Homo sapiens: one gene and its partner. The protein of the gene in region 2 purifies or fractionates together with the protein of the main gene of each other region. This does not show direct contact. Each region holds a gene or a part of one and is shown on either strand. Other genes may lie near its edges.

Region 1 (9,960 bases), on a different chromosome or scaffold from region 2:
CCTCAGCCTCCCAAAGTGCTGGGATTACAGGCATGAGCCACTGCACCCAGCATTTAAAAAAAAAAAAAAAAGAGCAACTGGTACCACTGCGGGGAGAGGAACCAGGAGTACTTTCTGTGCCTGTGACAGTGGGCAGAGGAAGACCTCCATGAGGTGCTTTCTGTAAGACAGGTAGAATGGGGTGGGGTAGCTCATCGATGGACCTGATCTTTGACTTAAAAAGGCAAGGGAAAAAGATGTAAGAACAGAAAAAGGTGCAGCCCACTCTCCCTCTTACCTAGAATGGGTCTGTGGCAGGGCTCTGCTCTCTAGTGACTCACAGCCAACAAGACTCAGCTCAGATGGCATTCTTCATCTAACACTTGAAAAATTCTTAGGTCAGGCGTGATGTGGGTCACATCTGTAATTCTAGCACTTTGGGAGACTGAAGTGGGTGGATCACTTGGCCCAGTTCGAGACCAGCCTGGACAACATGGTGAGCCCCTGCAAAAAATACAAAAAAAGTAGCCGGGTATGGTGGCATGCACCTGTAGCCCCAGCTACTTGAGAGGCTGAGGTGGGAGGATTGCTTGAGCCCGGGAGGTCAAGGCTGCAGTGAGCTGAGGCTGCACCACTGCACTCCAGCCTGAGTGACCCTGTTTCAGAGAGGGGTGTTTCAAAAAAACAGGGTTTCAGAGAGACCCTGTTTCAAAAAAAAAAAAAAAAAAAATCTTTAGATTTGCTTTTAAAAAGATGACAATAATGTCTGTAGCTATTTGGCTGTCACCTTTGAAGAGTCATGATGAGATTTAACTCACTACGCCATGTTTACTATATACCAAGATGTTAACATAGTTAAAAACCTTGCTCCACGACTCCAAAAGCTGTGCTTACCAGTTATGTGGCTTTACCAAGTTATTCCCCCACTCCAAATCTGTTTCCTCCTTTGTAGAACACGGATACTGTCATCTGTCCTACCTCAATCAGTTGTTACTAGCAAGGAAACTGTGGAAAATATGACAGATATCTGTGATGAAACAGCATCAATAGGGCATGATCCTTTTGGCAATTAGTTCACACACACAGCTACTACTTTTTGTTTCAAATTGCTACATTTCCTCACCTTCCATTTCCAGACAATCTAATCATCACTTGTTTGAAACCTGAGTCAAGCACTGTGAAAGTGTTTCTTAAAATAATTAAAATTACCACAGGAAGCAAAGCAGACTGAATTTTATAAATAGGGCTAATAGAATAATCTTTTGAGTTTTAAAAAGGGATGATGACAATAGCAGCTTATTATATACAGTACCTACTTATGAGCTGGGCATATAAGTAAAGGTTGAGTGCGTTACATATGTGAATTCACTTATTCATTCCTTGCAGCCACTCTGCATGATGGGTAGTTGTACCCTAATTTTCAGATGAGGAACCAGAAACACAGGTAGTAAATGTTAGTCAACATTTTAATCCAAAAACTCTGGTTCAAAAAAATTGATATCTTAACCTATTTTATTGCCCTTCTTAAAACAGTCATATGGGCCAGGCACTGTGGCTCACACCTGTAATCCCAGCACTTTACGAGGCCCAGGCAGGTAGATCGCCTGAGCCCAGGAGTTCGAGATCAGCCTGTGCAACATGGTGAAACCCCGTCTCTACAAAAAGTACAAAAGTAGCTGGGCGTGGTGGCATACGCCTGTAGTCCCAGCTTGAGCCCGGGAGGCAGAGGTTGCAGTGAGCTGAGATCACACCACTGCACTCCAGCCTGGGTGACAGAGTGAAACCCCGTCTCAAACAAAAACAAAACCAGTCATATGTGTGTAGATAATCCACATCTCTATTACTTTAGACAAATGAAGATTTCCAGGTGAAAGCCATGCATTTTTGTCCTAACTATAAGTAACTCTTCTACCCCATTCTCTGGCTCTCTGCAAATAACTTTAAAAGTTGATTTAAACACATTTACTCAAATCTTTCCTTTTCAAAAATTATAGAATTCCCAGAGGGGGCGGGGTGGGGGAGGAATCCTCAAAAAAGAGAAATGAAGGGAAAGTAGGGGAAGGTAAATGGAGATGTTTATGTTGTAGGAAATACATCTAATTTAAATTGAAAAACAAGTTATATAAATTCTAAAACTGCCGAAGAATGAACTGAAACACAGGAACTAGAATTCCAATTTAATTCTAAAACTAGCTGCTAAAAGCACTTATTTATTTATTTTTGAGATGGAGTCTCACCCTGTCGCCCAGGCTGGAGTGCAGAGGTATGATCTCAGCTCACTGCAACCTGCGCCTCTGGGGTTCAAGTGACTATCCTGCCTCAGCCTCCTGAGTAGCTGAGATTACAGGTATGCACCACCATGCCCAGCTAATTTTTTTGTACTTTTAGTAGAGATGGGGTTTCACCATGTTGGTCAGGCTGGTGGTCTCCAACTCCTGACCTCAAATGATTTACCTGCCTTGGCCTCCCAAAGAGCTGGGATTACAGGTATGAGCCATCACTGCCAGCCTAAAAGCACTTTTTGAATTAGATTAAATCTTCAGAACATTGAAATTTAGTATATGTAGATGAAAAATCATCAGTTAACAGGTCAAAACTTAAGGCAGAATTAAAGAAAGACCTGTCAATGGGCTTTTAAATGTGTAAGTAAGGTTATAACATTCACACAAAAATCAAACAGCAATGTAATTAAATTTTAAGAGTAAATTAATCTAGGTGAACTGTACTATACAACTAAAACACAGCTAATAGCATGAGGGCAATCAACATTACTGCATTTAATAAGTAATGATGAACAGCAAAACAACACACAATATACTCTTTAAATGTTTCACTGAAGCTCTTCACCATTTTGACTTCATGTAATGAGGTGTTTGTTCACATTTTATATGCCATTTAAACTGACAGAGTTGTTTTAGAAGGAGATGGTAGTGAGTGTTTAAAAAAAAAAAAAAGATTGAGTCTTTATTTTTGAAAAACCACCAAGTATCTCCAACTCCCAACTTACAAATTAGGGTGGTTTCTACACTTACTTCCTCTCAACATGCACACACTAAAGCAAATTCAAATCAAAGAAAGATTTTAAAATCATATGCAAAAACTGTTGATTTTACCCTACATCAGTGCTGACTCTTAATAAAAGAGAGGCCTTGGCTATCATCTTAGGGATGCAGGACATGCTTTAATTCTGAGGACAGACACCAGGAGACCAGAAAACAATAAAACCCTAAAAAAAACAGTGTCAAAGACTGTCAGAGTGACCTTGAAATCATTTAGCAATAGATACCAACTTTCCATGTGAGGGTAAAAGTAAGTTATTCAATGTGGCTAAATTAGCCATCTTGGTTAGCCATCTTGGACCTGCTGGGTCACTGGCATGTTATTCAAAATCTATAACATTTCTTTGGGAAACTTTTAGAAGGAAAATATGGGTCTATAAGTTGATTCATCTCCTACACATCTTTGATTTTAAAATGATGACCTAAACCCAGGTCAGGAAAGCAACTTCATTTCATGGCTTGTTTTTCCCCTTTTCTGCGTTCTGCCACTAGCAGTCGCTCTCATTCATTTGAAAGTAAAATGGTAAAGCAGTGATCTCTAGGTCTATACTACTTAACTTACTGAACCTCAAAGTTAGATTTACACATTCACTTCGTATCTCCCCAAAATTTTAAGCACAACAGGCATTTCCTTTTAGTTCAGGAATTTAAATGTTACTTTATGAACATAGGACTTTATCATTCATAAAGACGAAAACTCTAACAACAAAACTGAAAACTTGCAGGCAGCACGTAAAGCACTCAATCAATGCTAAGATTTCATTACCATGTAGTATTTTTTTTTTAATAGGATTTCTCTGTGCTCTACAGAGGAATGGGTATAGCCAGCCCCTTAAACCACTCTTGATGGTTCTAAGTGTTACTTACCCAGGAGTTGCCTTGATAATGGTTATTAGGTTTAACTTTAACAGCTTGAAACAATTTACACTTGTCTTGAAGTATACTTAAGGAATTTATTCAGCTGATTTTTAAGTGAAGGAGCTCAGTTAGTCAATATCCTACCATCTTGAAAGCTCCCTTCCAATGTAATTTTCATAGTCTTTACATTTTAACTGTCATTGTTTATTACTGTTTTGGCTATACTCTCTACAATTTCAGCAGCATTTTAAAGAGACAATGTGTCTATGTACAATGAAAAAACAAAATGGCTTGCAACATCAGAAATACAGTTTAACTGTACAATATTAAAGAGAATCCGTGGTACGTATAACCTTTTTCTGCAACATGAACAACTTACATGTAAGTATCAGCATTATGAATGTGACAATAAAGAAAAAGTCCTTACAGGAGTGAAATACAGCATCCTGAAAAATATTGGTTTCTACCCTACGAGGCAGTTAGAAAACGTTCACATTTTAACAAATCTGTACAAACCACAAGAAATTTGCTTATGGGACCATCTTGCTGATAAGAACTTTCTAGAAATGTAGAATAACCATGAACAAATTAAAAATCTAGTATCTATGTGTTCTACAGCCCTAGAACCCAATAAACTGATTTAAAAACTCAATTATGTCCAACATGGATCACTTTTACATCTTGATTGTTAATGACTGTCTGCTTTTTAATATCTATGATGTACAGTCAACTTGCACCTTCTAGGTCATTTAATTTTTTAGCAAAGAAGCAACATCATTTAGCAGCAATTAGAGTGCCTTCAAGAAGACTTAAAAAAAATACAATATCCAATTAGAAAAGCCATATTTTAAACATTTGTACAAGAATAAGCTGCTGAAACTTAGTAATTGAAATATGACATCTGTACAACAATTTACAATAGAGCTAGAAGGGAATTTATCATTATCCTGCATAGAACTGGTCTGCATTTGGTTACTCACTGTCACCTGTTTTGATGAACAAGGCCTGGTAACAAAAGAAAAATACCTGTTATCAATTCTAACGTGTTGAAAACACTGGCAATATTATAATTTAGTGAATTCAACTGATTTCAACACAAGCAGCTCATTTTGTCAAAGGTGTAAAGTATTTAGAAATAATAGCTCTCCCTTTAATATAACCAGTGAAAGAAAACGGACATGTGATCTCGAGGTACAACTTGGTAAAAGTCTGAATAGGCAAATGACAAAGCCTAACTTTGTCCAAAGATTCTAACTCTCACATTCTATTACTATAAAACACAACTGTCACTGTCATTCAGTTCTTACTTTGGTTTCAGCAGATTAACTGCCAAATGCTGAAGAATGTATCCAGGCACTATAGTTCGTATGTTAGAAATATGTCTCATATTTTTCCATGTGTTTTTAAATAATGAAAAACTACCCTTCATATTAGAACTCTCTAGTAACAACCAAATGTATTTAAGTATTATAAACGTTATTTACAGTGTTCCCCCAAATAAACAAAATTTTTTTCCTCTATCTTAACATGGTATTCCTGTTTCTGTGTAACAGGCAGTCATCCTTCCTTCACTGCTCAAAATTATAGTCAGAAGTGTGCATTTATTCATTGTCCATGATCCTCTCTCATACAAATGACACTATGAGGAACTTCAGTTCACAAACAGTTCTTAACCACGTCTTGTGTAAAAAAAAAAAAAAAAAAAAAAGAAAAAGAAAACAAACACTCAAATGCTCTCAAACTTAAGTGTGCATCTGGAAGCAAATTCAAAGATATCATGCCAATCTTGGAGGAAAGTCAGTAAGTAATTATGCTTGAAGAAGGGGGTGTAGGGGATGCTGTCAGCCCAGCCATGTGTAGGTTTCCTGAAGAATTTGATCTTCTCATGTGTGGGAGAAGGTATGGGTCATTTGCCAGCTGGTGCACATCAAATCGATCTTCTTTTCGATATGCCAAACAGCGTCTTATAAATGCCTCAAAAAGAGAAAGGAAATGTTAGCAATTAATGATCTTTTTCCCTTCTAAATATCAATCAACTGAATCAGCAGAAGGATGGACACATTTAAGACATAAGTAGATCTCATTTTATTGGAAGTTCAAACCTTAAAAAAAAAATTCTGTAGCTAGAAAATTCTCACTCCAAATGCAACTCACTGCTTGAAGCCCCTGCAGTGGTTCACTTTACAGTCTAAATTACTACTGCAACCATTTGAACTTATACTGGAAAGTTGTTTCTGCTTACGAAATTCTGAAGACTTTTTTCTAGCATTTTTCTTCTGCTAAACAGTCCTCCCACCCTCATCCCATTTTGTTATCACTTCAGTTTAGCAAAGGGTAAGATGCCATTTTCAACCATTATTTTTTTTTCCTACTGACATAAAGACTTTCTTTAGATGAAGAGATCACTGAAGGGACACTTTCATTAGGGACATTGTTTCCCAGGTTAACCCTATGCATCATTACACTCCTGGAAAAGCTAAATAAACAGAATATAATCACTATTTTTTTTTTCTCAAACCAATTTTACTCAGTTTTTCTTTGAGAATAGCCTCTTACAAAAAAAAAAAAAACCTTTCCTGAAGTGTAACACATTTTTAGAAATGCACACAAATCGTTAAGTGCATAGCACAAAGTAAATACATCTATGTAACTGGCAACCAGATCAAGAAAAAGAACCTCTGAATCCCCCTCATGCCCAGTTCCAGGCACTGGCTCTGTCCCCAGTCGAACCTGGGTTAACCTTTATCTTGACTTCTAAAACCATAGTTGAGTTTTGATTGTTTGAATTTTATATAAATAGAATTATAAATTATGTTCTCCTTTGCCAGGCCTCTTTCACCCAATATTAAATTTTGAGGTTCATCCTTTTTTGGGGGGGGAGGGAACAGATAAAATATTCTCAGGAGGTAACTGGTAATTGTTTCCCTTTCTTAATGCTGACACTAGAAATTAATACATACCATTAAACAGAAGTATAATCACATTAAAAGGTAACTATTTTGCACTTTCTTTGCTTTGAAATTCATTAGAAGTATATTTTTCTCTAAAAATATACCTAGCTATTCTCATTTTACCATAGCTTACTGTTTATTGGAAGTCAATCTGATCCCTTAGAGGACTTATCTTTTTTATCTTTAACAAAGTTTCAGAGATCACTTTGAAAAATGATTAAGAGGGAAAAAAACATCAAGACTGATATGTTAGAGTTTGAGGAGTGGAAAGGCTATCAATAGCAAGGTTAAGGTTAAGTCTGCAACAAATAATGTACTTAAAGATGCCCACACCAAGTCAGGGAAAGTACTTGGCAAAGGTATCTTCTGTAGGGATACAGAATATAGAGATATTATATATTACATTAAAATATTAAAATTTATATCATATAATTGTATCATATTAATATTATATCCCCCCAACAACCCCTTAACCCTTCCTGGATTCCAGATCTCTAAAAGGTGACTGTGGTGCCTATTAAGAGCCTAAGGAGAGAACCAGGAATGGCTAAATGAGACTTTGCCTTTGGCAACTCCACTCCTCCTGGTCTTTTCAGTCAGTATTAAACAAACAGATCATGAATCAACTAAATTCATTTAATTTCTGTTCTCAATGAGGCTACAGACAGAAAATAAGACAAGATTTAGATGTCAGCACAGTTAAAATATTTTTAAAGGAGTCATATTTATCTTACAAAAATAATTCATTTTGCTTTCAAATAAGAATATTTATCTCTTTTGTTTTTTTGAGAATGGGTCTTGCTATGTCGCCCATGCAGGAGTGCAGTGGTGCGATCTCACCTCACTGCAACCTCTACCTCTTGGTCTCAAGCGATCCTCCCAGCTCAGCATCCTGAGAAGCTGAAACTAAAGGCACGGGCCCCTACACCGGGCTAATTTTTGTATTTTTAGTAGAGATGGGGTTTCACCATGTTGCCCAGGCTGGTCTCGAACTCCTGGGCTCAGGCAATCTGCCTGCCTGGGCCTCCCAAATTGCTGGATTACAGGTGTGAGCCACCGCGCATGGCCTATTTGGTTTTTTTGAGACAGGGTGTCACTCTGTCCCCCAGGTTTGAGTGCAGCGGTATCGTCATGGCTCACTGCAGCCTTGACCTCCCTGAGCTCAGGTGATCCTCCCACCTCAGACTCCCAAGCAACTGAGACTCTAGATGTGTGCCACCACGCCTGGCTAATTTTTGTATTTTTAGTAGAGACCGGGTTTCACCATGTTGGTCAGGCTGGTCTCAAACTCCTGACCTCAGATGATCTGCCCGCCTTGGCCTCCCAAAGTGCTGGGATTACAGGTGTGAGCCACCACGCCCAGCCTTATTATTACTTTTAATATTTCTTATATACTTATATATCTCAGTATTAACATAAGCAGATAAAATAATACATAAAAGGTAATGATGAGCCCAGATCTTGTGATTTTTCCCTAATTTTCAAAGTAGCAGCTGATGAACATAAACAATCAGAGACCATAGCTTAAAAGATAAAAACTATAGCAACCAGAGGCTGATGCAACTCCTTCTCTGAAAGTAAATCACCAGCCCCTGCTGGACAGATCCCCTGCAGCAGCGAGTCTTGTGACTTTACTTACTGGAAAGTACTTACCTTGTTGTCAGCACAACTGATGAAAGAAAAGTTACTTCACAAAACTCATTTACAAAAATTTAATACCTTGGCTTCACTGCTTACAACCGGTTTTACAGGGAACTGGACTTCTGTGGCTTTTAATATTGTATTTTCTTGAAGAATGTCTTGTTGAGATTGATTGTGACCAAATGGCTTAAAAAAAAAATTAAATGTTGAGATACTTTTCTCACAAAATATTTAAACACAGATATCATTTCTGTTTAAGCGAATTCCCAAAACCGAAAATCCAAATATCTTGTGTTCTAAAATCTTCCTCAGTTATTTGAAACCTGAGATGAATTCTCATACAAACAAGCTATAATTGATAGCAGGCCAAGAAAGCCTACCTAACAGATCTTCAACATAGATTAAACACTGTAAGAAGAAGAAAATAATGCTGTTGCAATATAAGATAAAAACATAAATTTAAAACTTTATTCTGAATAAACAATGAAGTTCAGTTAGAGAAGAGATGAAGTAGTAATGAAAATGTCTATGACAATTTCCAAAGAATAAAATACTGTGTGCATCACAGGCGAATTTAAATGAAGGAGCTCTGGATTTGGAGTGAGGAGATCCCACACAAATCCCTTAACCTCTCTTCCCCTATTGATGAAGGGATGGGGTGGGATGTGGGCTAGTTAATATTTATGGTAACCTGCACTTCCAACTTCAATATAAAAAGAAGTTGGGAAATAAGACTAAGTTTGATGGTATTTCCCTGATGAGCAACGGGGAAACTGCCCACCCAGGCCAAACTGTGTGTGTGGGTGGGGTGGGGGGTGTAAGAGGAGGTCAAGTGAATGGTGGATAATGAAAAGTATTGACTCCAGTATTCCCAATAGCAGACAAATATTAGCATGTTAACAGATAGTTACTTCTTTTCTTAAAAAAAGGAAAGAAAGCAAAAAGTAGGTCAAGTAAACTGGTGTGACATTAAAATAATTCTGATCCATGGAAATTTTAGGAAGAAATAGAGGAGAAGCCTGGCTTTCTTTAGAAGGATCTAAATTGACTTTAAGTTAGTGAAATTTTGCTTTTAAGAAGGAAAAATTCAACTTAATTTATCTCTGTAGAGCTGAAGGCTGGTAGAATTCAATTTACCTTTCTACCATAAAGACACTGAAAGAAGATGACTCCAACCGACCATACATCAACCTTGTTGGAAATCTTTGGTGGCTCTTTTCCAACTACAAAACACTCAGGAGGTAAATACCTGTAAGTTTTGTGGGAGAGAAAAAAGGTTACTACTGACAATCTGTAACTTAAAATCTTCTAAGTGTAAAATCTTAGAACACGAATTTTATTCATATATAAACTCTAGGACTCCCATCAGTGAAAATCATCAACTGAACTTCTGGAGCATTTACATTCTTTTATCATTTAACTCTAGAGCCAACACATACAACATTGTGATAAAGTTCATCTCTATCTATCTT
Region 2 (10,389 bases):
TCTACAGCAAAATAAATGTTTATACATAAAAAGTTGCATACAATTTCAGATAATTATGGCATCTCTGAAGCCTCTGCGTGGATCCCCCAAGGGTCATGAACTTGAATTAAGAGCCAAGTCTATAAATCCTTGACACCAATTACTTGGCTGCAGATGGAAGTTGGCTGGGATCAGTTTAAAAATTCAGATTTCTGGGCCCCATCCAAGAACTACTGATTCAGAATCTCTGGATTTATACTCCTAGATGTTGCTGAATTATTCTTTATATATTAGAGAACAAGACAGTCTGTGGACTGGCTTTTGGGAACCACCCCTCTAAATAATGCCCACTCCAGGGATCAGAATTCATCTCAGCCACTTTTACCTCTGTAACATTAGGTAAGCTACGTGACTCTCCTAACTTTCCATTTTGTCTTCTGTAAATGGGGATAATAATTGTCCCTACCTCATAGAGCTAATATGGAATAAAATATTCCATCTAAGTGTTTAGCACAGTGTCTGGCACATAACTACCCAATAAATGTTAATTTATTACTAATTATATAGTATTATCATTTTATTATCTAGGTAATAATCTCTACAAATGGTCTCTTTGCTACCGAGGTGGGAACAGAATACCATTGCTAGCCAACTGTTAATAAAAATACATGAAAGAAAGGAAAAAATTCAAAGTTTATTCAACATTAAGAATAACAGACAGATAAAGGTTTGGACTTAACAGCATAAATACCACCAATATCATGGTGTACAATTAAACTAACCTCATGTCAACTTGTACCTGTTTAACAGATGCGATCTTTGTGGTGTTGCCAAAAGGATAATGGATTATTGTTATGTTTGGTAAGGTGCTCAAAATTAAAGACTTTATGTCGACTTATTCACACACATACACACACACACACATGCACGCACACACACACACACACACTCTTACACTTAGCCTCCTGCAAAATGTATTGACTTTAGTTGCTATATCCGATTCGGATAAGGCTTTGCTCATTTTTTAAATGACATTATTAATTGCAGAAAAAACGTGGAGGAGACCTTGGCCTTGCCAGTGGGGGTACCTAGGAGCAGAAGGTGATCGCCACCTGGAGGGCAGATCACTTAGTCTCAGACACCTGCAGGGTGCTGAGACCCCAGTGCTAAATCCAGATCTCCAATTGCCATCACACATAGGCAAGCAGGCCTGGTCCCATGCCTTGGGATCGCTCTAATTGACTGTGATAAAGATTGAGTTTTCCTTAAAGGAAGAATAGGGTAAAATGAGATAAACTACTAGAAAAACCAAAGAATAGCTTTGCATTTCACAGAATGTCTATTGTTTTACACTGGGGGCAGTGGGGAGGGTGCCACTGATAATTCTTGCTTCTTCCGAAAACAGACCCTAGACATCTGATTGTACATTTGGAATTACTGTGAGTTCCCCACCAAACCAGTGGGTTAGAAGGAACCTCTGGGTGGTCTAGTACAGGTTTCCATTCCACCCACCCCACTGTGGAATCCCATCTGTACTCTCCTCAAAGGGTCCTTCTGCTTTGAGGGATGGGTCAGTGGAGGCCTGTTGTATTTGAAGACAAAAGGCCTATCACAGTCTTGCCTAATGTGGTATTTGAATGGTTCAAAGTGGCCACTTCCTGAAGAGAAAGAAGTAATGATCTACAGCCCTCCCCTCAACAAACTACCTCCTTAAGGCAGCACCAGCAGAAAGATAGGCTGGTCAATTTTTGCCTTTCTTTGCCAAGTCTAGTTAAAAGAAACAACAATGTGACCTCATCAGGAGGTCCTAAGCTGTTCCTTCCAAATCATGTCTAGATGATGTCAGTATGATATGATTTGGATTCATTGTTAATGGCCAAATAATTAATCTCTGAAAGATGCTTAGGATGAAAAGGTGAAAAATGACAAAGGGACTCTCATAATAGCTGCAGCGTGCAGACATGCGTCTGACTCCGGTTGACCCAAATCACTCAGAGTCAAGCCATGGCCTCCCGCTCCATGAAGCAGATCTGCCTTGTTTGCTAGTTAACTGCCCTGGATGGAGAGGCAGCCAGTCCAGAGGGAGTGTTCGTGTGTGTGTATCGTGACAATGACCTACATATAAGGCACCTGTACAGACTCCAAAGTGTTTAAATTTGTAAGACGAGGTAGGTTTCTGAAACCTCTCCTGGCACACAAGAGAATACATTTTATTAGAATCTTTTTATTTTTTTCTGCAGAAAACATTTGAGATGCTCATTTGATATAAACATCTAATTCCAAGAGAGACCAGTGCTCAAATATAGTTTTTTCAGCTACCATTTGATACGGCCATAAATTTGGATGGTCCATGTTACAATCCTTCCACAATTCTCCACTTAAAGACATCATTTTTCTATGTTTTTAATGACTATTGCCATCTAACAATTCTACAATTCGCCTCTTTGCCTGTAAAAAGGCCAACTCTACGTCCACCTGTGTCTCATATTGCTATCTTTTATTTATCTCTGCTTAAGATTGCAAAAGTTTTTGATTTTATTATTCACCTGAACAATGTATTGCAATTCCAATACACCCCCATCTCTTGCTGTTATCTACAGCTTGTGACAAAATGAACACCTTGTAGAAATATCCTACTGGTTGGGTTTCCCAAGTCTATGACACTATGAGAGAAGCATTGCTGATGGATTGACGAGGAGACCACCAGATCATTAAAGGATTAGATACTCTGAAGGCAGGAAACTAGAAAATCCCATTGATGAAAGGATATTTTAATCTAGCGTAAAATGTTTCTTTGTCGTAACAGCAGAATTTCTTGACATTTTACAACTTAATGAAACAAAAGAACAATCATCTTTAAAGTCAAACATCTATCAAATTATAAACCAAACACATAGCACCGATATCAACCTCATAAAACGTGCGGGCCCGCAGGGTAGAAAAGAACTGTCTGGGGCACTGGCAGCAACGTGCCATTCCAGGAACTCAGAATTTCGAAGTGAACATTTTTGTGGCAGATGCTTTTCCTAAAAAACACTGTATCATCCAATAAATATTTGACTAAAATCCATTTTGTGCTTTTGGGTGACGTTAACTGACTTCTTTCTGAGGCCTAATAAGAAACAAGAAAGCTCCTTGTGTATTTTAGAGCAGGATTCGTCATCACAAGCCTCGATACTGTCATAAAATTTTAATTTAAAGCAGAAAACATGCTGATGTGTCAGTGATAGGGCTTAAAATATTAAAGACTTCAAAAACCCCCAAGCACTTCTTCTCTGTACAACATTGGTGAATATATATCTTTGCTATATAATTTTAAAACATGGAATAGTTTTCCTCTCCTCTTTTCTATATATAATATATGTCTTCCAAAATACATTGTCAGTATTTATATCTGAAAAATACTGTACAAAAAAGAACTTCCTATAATTACTCTGTATAAACATTAAACGATTTAATAATCTCTCCTTTTGGTCTATAGTAAACATTTAAATTGATTGGATTAACCACAGTTTGTGACAACACCATCCCCTTCTGAGATACACCAGTGTCTTTTACATTCATTTTTCAGAAGTCCACTTTATAAGAGCACATACGTTCAAAAGCAAACAGAGAATAAGAAACATAAGCTTCAGAATCATTAATTTATGAGGCATTCAAAAATGACACCACTAGGAAAAAGGGCCTTAGAAAACATCAACTTATTAACTTAATCAACTGATTTTCTTTTTAAAAACAACAAAGTATAATTCACAAAAATATATATATTACCAAAAAGTGGGAAAACTGAATCTTAAGTAACTGTTTTGAATGTCAAGAGGGATATGGAAAAAGTTAACTAGAAAAGTGGGGGCGAGGCAGGGTGTGAGGGAAGGGGAACAACAAAACCGAACACATCAATGTCAAAGGCTAATCCAAGACGCAGTTTTTGGCTCATGTACTGATAAATTAACCCCTCATCCTTAGACCTCCCATTTCCCTCTGCTTCCTTGTCCTAGGGAATAGTCTGGCCATGCTCAAATGCATTACTTTACTTTTTGTTTTTTAAAAGACAGTGAAATTCTTAGGTAGGGAAAATATCCTACGTCCACTAGTAATACTCAGGCAGCATGCTCTAGCGTACAATAGGATTATTGCTTTAGGTACAGACAGTGCAAAAACACACTCTGTGTTCTATTAATAGTACTCTTACTTATCTGGGGTTGGTAGAATTAAAAGGAAACTTAGTAGATAGCAGTAAGTAAATATGGGATCTAATAAATCTAAACAGCACTTTAATTTGAAGACGATTATCACCAAAACTGAAAGTAAGAGGAAAGCAACTTATAAAGGACTAGAGCTGCGGAGTAGTGCTAAGTTATTGTGTGCACCTCATTAGCATGGTAACTTACGGACTAAACAGAAACAAGAGCTTGTACTCTTAAAAACTGAGATCCACTATTTTACCAGGGCCCTTTTTAGTGAATCCAAGCAGAGAGTCCTGGAAGAGTAGGTAAGCTCGAACATGAAGCAAAGCTGAGGAGGCAGGAGTGAAGGAGGGAGGGGATGGGAGACCCGCGAGAGGGCTCCTCAGTCTAGTAAAGACATGGCACCTTTCTTTGTTGGAACTAAAAGACGATGAGAGGGCTACCTTAAAATGGCAAGAGCAAAGGAACACGCACACGCACATACCGCTGACCACACACATGAGCACAAGCACATATACACGCACACACACACAGATGCACACCAAAATGGGAGTCAGTTGTGTTTATGCCTCTGGTAAAGTGCTGATGTCAGAAAGGTTGGTTTGCGTGTGGTGCTATCAGACAGGAAACAAACTGTCCATCTATTCCAAAGCCAGCCTGCAAAAATGCCATCCTACAGGGGCCCGTGCCTGGCCTCATACTTGGCAAGTATGTTCTTGCATTTGCCCAGCTCCTTCCTCAAGTCAGCCACCTCCTGGCGGAGGGCCGAGTTCTCCTTCTCCAGGAACGAGGCCCGGATGGCGATCTGGTTCTCTTTCAGCCTCCGGGCGTCGCGGGAGCGCTTGGCTGCCATGTTGTTCTTTCTGCGCCTTGCCCAGTACTTGTCATCCTGCTCATTAGTTACAGAAGGGAAAAAGAAACAAGATATTAGATTTCAGCAAAGCCCAGTGCCAGCCAGGGCACGGGCAGGCTCCAGGATTGTGCAGAGGTGCCAGCCCGGGTTTCTTAGCTTGTGTCTCCTTCCTTTACAGTTTCTGCATGTCTGAGAGTGTGGCCCATGAGCCACACTTCCTTCTTGGAGCAAGGACCCACCGATCTGTCCCAACAGGCTCCTACTCTTTGCCCAGCAGAGGCGTGCTCAGTGAAGCAGAGATCAGAGGCTGGATGAAAGCAGGTGGCTCACCTCACCCTTAAATTACATTTCAACTTTCTTTACTCTCCCTGCTCAACATTTTAAGAACCCTTTTCCTTCAAGGGCACTCATATGCTTTTTTGGGTATGAGTTGGTACAAAAATTTTAGAAGGCAATTTGGCAATATCTATCAACTATTTAAATGGATATACTATTCATCTAGCACTCCACTTCCAGGATTTTGTCCTGTAGCAATCTCCATACATGTGCATGTACACACAAGCATAAACTGTTCACTGCAGCATTATGTGCAGTAGAAAAAATGAGGAAAAACTATGCATAGGAGATTTAACAACCACGTTATGATACAGTCATACAAAGGGATACTTGGCAGCTGTTAAAAATAATGACCCACCTGCACCAGAAAGATGTTCATATGATATGCCACTATGTGGGTGGAAACAATGACAGTTTACACACAAATATGTATGGTCTCATCCCAGTTTGATTAAAAATCATATATTCATAGAAAGAGGCGCAAAAAGATTTATACTAATCTATAAAGGTGGAGCCTCTAGAAGGGGGATTGGCAGAGGCAAAGATGTAAGACTTTCTACCTTTTATATTATTCTGAACTATTACAATATCATATAATAGATACATACACTTTGGTAATTAAAAATAGAAATTAAAAAAAAAAATCTTCAACCTGCCGCTAATCAATGTACTCATATTGGTGGCCAGAATTTACATAATTTACTCTAATTTCTTGTTTAACCATTCTCTAGGCCTTAATTAGCCTGAGTAATATTTTACTGTGGTCAGTGTAAAAACAATCCCTCCTTCCCTGCCCTCCACCCCCACTGCTGCCTCCCTGACAGAAAGGAAAAACTTCTTAAGAAGACTAAGAAACAGGGATCTTCTTTTAGATCTTCCCAATTCACTGATGGTGGCACCTGGTGAATTTTGCAACTCCCCTTTTTCAACAATTTGCAACAGCAAATCCCTCAGTCCTAGCAATGCTACTACCTGCAGTTACATGCCACCCAGAATAAATGGGTCAGGCCAGTGCTTGCACCCCTCAGAATTCCAAGGGGCAGTTGGCATTGAAGGAGGTCACATGGGTTGGGGCCAAAGCTGCAAGGAAAGTCTAAGGTCAGCGGTCCACCCCCAAAACTGCCCATTACCCTCAACAGGCATTTGCCCTGCACAAATACAGAAAGTGTGGGATAGAAACTGTGTAGATACCTCCTATCTGCCATCCACAAACTAGTACTATCATCTTAAATAAAGCACCCCCAGCTTTTTATACATTTCATAACAATATGCAACAGGGTAAAAAAACGATTTTCAAAATAGATGTTACCAGAATTCTTCTGGGTAGGAGGGAGGAGGCTGCTCTTTGAAGAATACCTGGGTGAGCAAGCTAGGGCAGGTGTGCAATGGTTGTTGGCCGAATTTGTTGTCTGTGCTTCTGAAAGCGAGCAGGGGAGCTGGAGGCAGGGGAGAGGCTGGGAGGAGTCAGGCGAGTCAATGACGTCATGGTGGTGAGGGGGCCCAAAGTGGTGAAGCCTCCAGTTAACAACAGTGGTGAAGCCTCCAGTTCTGATGGAAGTTATTTGTGTTTTGATAGAAGCCTGGGTTCCAATCCCTTCACAGTATCAGTAAATCTATACCCAACAATGTGCCTGGGAGTGCGGTTTCCAAGAGCACTCAAAAGAGGACTTGATTTAGGATGTATCAGAGTCTGCACACGGGGGAACAGGAGCCCAGGAGGCGAAGGGGTACATAAGAACAAGCCCCTGGAACACTGTAGAAACTGCATGTATGTGATGGGGGAGGAATGGGGGGTCCCACCATAGGCCACAGGCTTGATGTGGTGTAAGACAATTCTGACCAGGTCTTAATGACCAGGGAGTCACCAGCTGACTTCAGGGTAACAACCAACTTCTCTCTAACTTATTAGAGCTCTTCTCACTTCTAAAGTGCTCTCATTTCCCAGCCTCACCTGTCCACACATGCAGATGAGCCAGCCAAGGTGTGGAATGCAAAACAAACCTTTCAGGTGGGAGGGAGGGGAGCTGGGAACCGGGTCCAGAAGAGGATACAGAAGGCAGGAATGACGAAAGGAGTGTCCTGGACTAGAAAAGCCTGCTCGCCTCCCTTTGTTATCGCAGAAGGGTTGCGGGCAGGGGGGAAGCGGGATTTTGAGCGGGGCTGATAAACTTGGCACTCCATCCTCTGCCCCCTTTCCCTCTCCCAGTTGCTGATGCCATCTGGCTACCCAGTTACCTCCATGCAACAAGGGACCCACTTAGCCCCGCCCCACCCAACAGATCAACACTCCCTGTTTCTCACCAGACTACAAGTTCCATGAAGGCAGGAACAGTATCAGTATTGGCTCACCTCGGTATTCCCAGCCCCTGATACAGGGTTAGAGGGTTGGCACACACTAGCATTTGAAAAAATTCATCAAGTGAATGAATGGACCATTAAAAGCATTTAAAAAATCAAGGTAATTAAATGGATTTTCAGCTAGGTACCCCAGCATGTCAACCTCAATTCTCCCTTCTTTCTCCAGCGCATGCATGCTAACCCTAATGATTGGCTCAAGAGAGGAAGTTCAGGCAGCTACAGGGAAGATCATTTTTAGTGGGGCCATTTCATTGAACTGGTTTACTTGTCCAATGCTGGGGGCCAGAAACACCTTCTCCTCCATCTACCCTTAGCTCAGACCTTTCTGCCAGAAGGAGAAACATGTTACAGCTCTGCTTCCTGCTTTATATTAGCTCATGGTCTTTAGTTTGAGACTTCGTCCACAACTAAAAAATATCCAAGGACACCTGGCAGGACAATGTTCCTGCCCATTCCCCACCTGCTATGTGGAAAGGTCAGGCCTGACCATGACAGCAGCAATATGTGTAATTCCAGCACAGACGGTTTTTGTCTGGCCTCTTTGTTGCCAAGGTTACCTGGGTTATTAACTAATCTTGCTCTTTGATAAATCTGGAGACTTTGTGAAAGTCTGGCTGGAAGTTCTGTCTATCACTCATAGCAGCATCCTTTCAAACTACCCTCCATTCAAGAGAAAATCCAGGTTGAACAGGATCCCTGGCTTTAGTTTAAGATACGAGGCTTTAAAATACACAAAAAAGGCCGGGCGCGGTGGCTTACACCTGTAATCCCAGCACTTTGGAAGACCGAGGTGGGCAGATCACAAGGTCAGGAGATCGAGACCATCCTGGCGAACACGGTGAAATCCCGTCTCTACTAAAAATACAAAAAATTAGCCGGGCGTGGTGGCGTGCGCCTGTAGTCTCAGTTACTCAGGAGGCTAAGGCATGAGGATGGCTTGAACCGGGGAGGCGGAGCTTGCAGTGAGCTGAGATCGTGCCACTGCACTCCAGCCTGGGCAACAGAGTGCGACTCCATCTCAAAAAAAAAAAAAAAAAAAACACCATAAAAAATTGGATCACTAAGAAGACAAGACTAGGAAAGGCATCTCATTGAAATAAGGTACCTAATTGCCCAAGACCTGAGCCCATGGTGCCCCTTTTTTACCCCATCTCAGTCTAACCATCAATGTCCTGACTAGTTTAGATTTTCTGGTGTTTTTACCATGTGATTTCCTTTTTTGATTCTCAGGGTGACAGCCATTGATTTGTCACCCATGGGCCCCCGTTATAGCCCTTGTCAGGGCCAACATGCTGCTGTGACCTTTTGGGAAGCAAGACAACCTGGGAGCCAGGCTAAGCCTTTCTCTAACAGGTAGTGATCCGCTGACTTCAGCTTTCCATTTTCTGCATTTCCTCAACTGCAAGTGGTAATTTTGGACAAATGAATCTCTAAGGTCCCCTTCAGCCCTGATGTTTTCCTATTCTGCATCAATTAAGGTAATCTCAGGAATGTGGATGACAGCAGTGATTTAAATTTGCCAGGTACTTCTGCTTCCAGCATTTTTTCTAGCTATGTAAAGCAGGAACAACTGGTCTAAGCCAGTTCAGACGTTGTCTCAAATTCCTATTTCCCAGCCTAGGAGTGTCTCTACATAGGAACAATAGTTAGGTTTGAGAGATGGGGGGCAGACAGTAGAAAAGGGCTAATTATGCCTGGTTCCAAGGCCTTGACTACATAATAATCATATCTCTAGTACCCACATGATTGGAAAGAAGCATGAAAGTTCTAAGCAATGGTTAATAAGAAATGGTTCTATTTTGGCATTAGCAGACATGGCATAATTTTGGAAAGAATTTTCATCCTAAGATGTCATTATTGTGTCTGGTTAATTTTGTTTTAAGCTGTATTTGACTTCCAAGGTAAATCTATTTCCCTTTATAAATAAGGTGTCCCTTCAACACTGCAGAGAAAACCTACTTAGAATTAATCTAGCGGTGAGATATTCAAGTGATCGTTACTTAAGATACATATAAATGGTGTCAGGGAACTACCAGTTTCCTTCACAAAATCCCACCCTGGTCATCCAAGGTTGGCAATATGGAGGAAGGTCCTATCTCTGGCTGTTATTCCTCGCAGCCTACAGGGAAATGGCAGCAGCAAATTATCAAAAATTTTCTAAAAGGAAGGTAACCCTTCGAGGGCAATGAGGTTCAGATGCCCTTCTCAAATGATTTTCTTTCTCTTCTCAACCTTGAAAGATGTGGGGTTTAATTTTATTAGACTTTTGTGGGTTTCCATGCAGATAGGAGCAGGTTTGTTTCCTTCATGGGTTTAAAATCACTCCAACATTTTACTGCTTCTCCTTGTTTCTGTTCAGCATCAAGACATAAAAGTGCATTTCAAAAAATACCCAGAGAGGAAACAACTGGCCTAGAAGTCACATGCCAAGAAACAGGATCAGAAATCAGAAATCCTTCATGCACTAGCTTCTGGGATCATCCTGGGGTCACCCTTTTAATCTGTCTGTGGATCCCACTCTCCATTTGCCCAAAGACTGATTACCAGTTCCAATTTACCTTCAGGTCATCAGGGATGAAGACTTTGCGAGCTTTCTTGATCATGGGCTGTGGCTTCAGTTCTTCCTCAGAGAACTTGCGTTTGCGAGGGTCAAACATTTCCTGGCCAGGGATGCTG

What was found.
Region 1: the proteins of HLF (region 2) and TLK1 purify together in Homo sapiens (affinity purification with mass spectrometry; 2 studies listed by BioGRID and IntAct, with this or other methods). This does not show direct contact.

Annotation. Positions count from the first base shown.
Region 1 is NC_000002.12:170,988,087-170,998,046, forward strand, and holds the end of TLK1 (serine/threonine-protein kinase tousled-like 1), read right to left. Parts: intron 9,738-9,960; coding exon 9,626-9,737; intron 8,675-9,625; coding exon 8,567-8,674; intron 5,871-8,566; coding exon 5,694-5,870; 3' UTR 2,737-5,693; downstream 1-2,736. UniProt on the Homo sapiens protein: Rapidly and transiently inhibited by phosphorylation following the generation of DNA double-stranded breaks during S-phase. This is cell cycle checkpoint and ATM-pathway dependent and appears to regulate processes involved in chromatin assembly.
Region 2 is NC_000017.11:55,315,330-55,325,718, reverse strand, and holds the end of HLF (hepatic leukemia factor), read right to left. Parts: coding exon 10,272-10,389; intron 5,059-10,271; coding exon of another isoform or gene 5,056-5,058; coding exon 4,840-5,055; 3' UTR 532-4,839; downstream 1-531.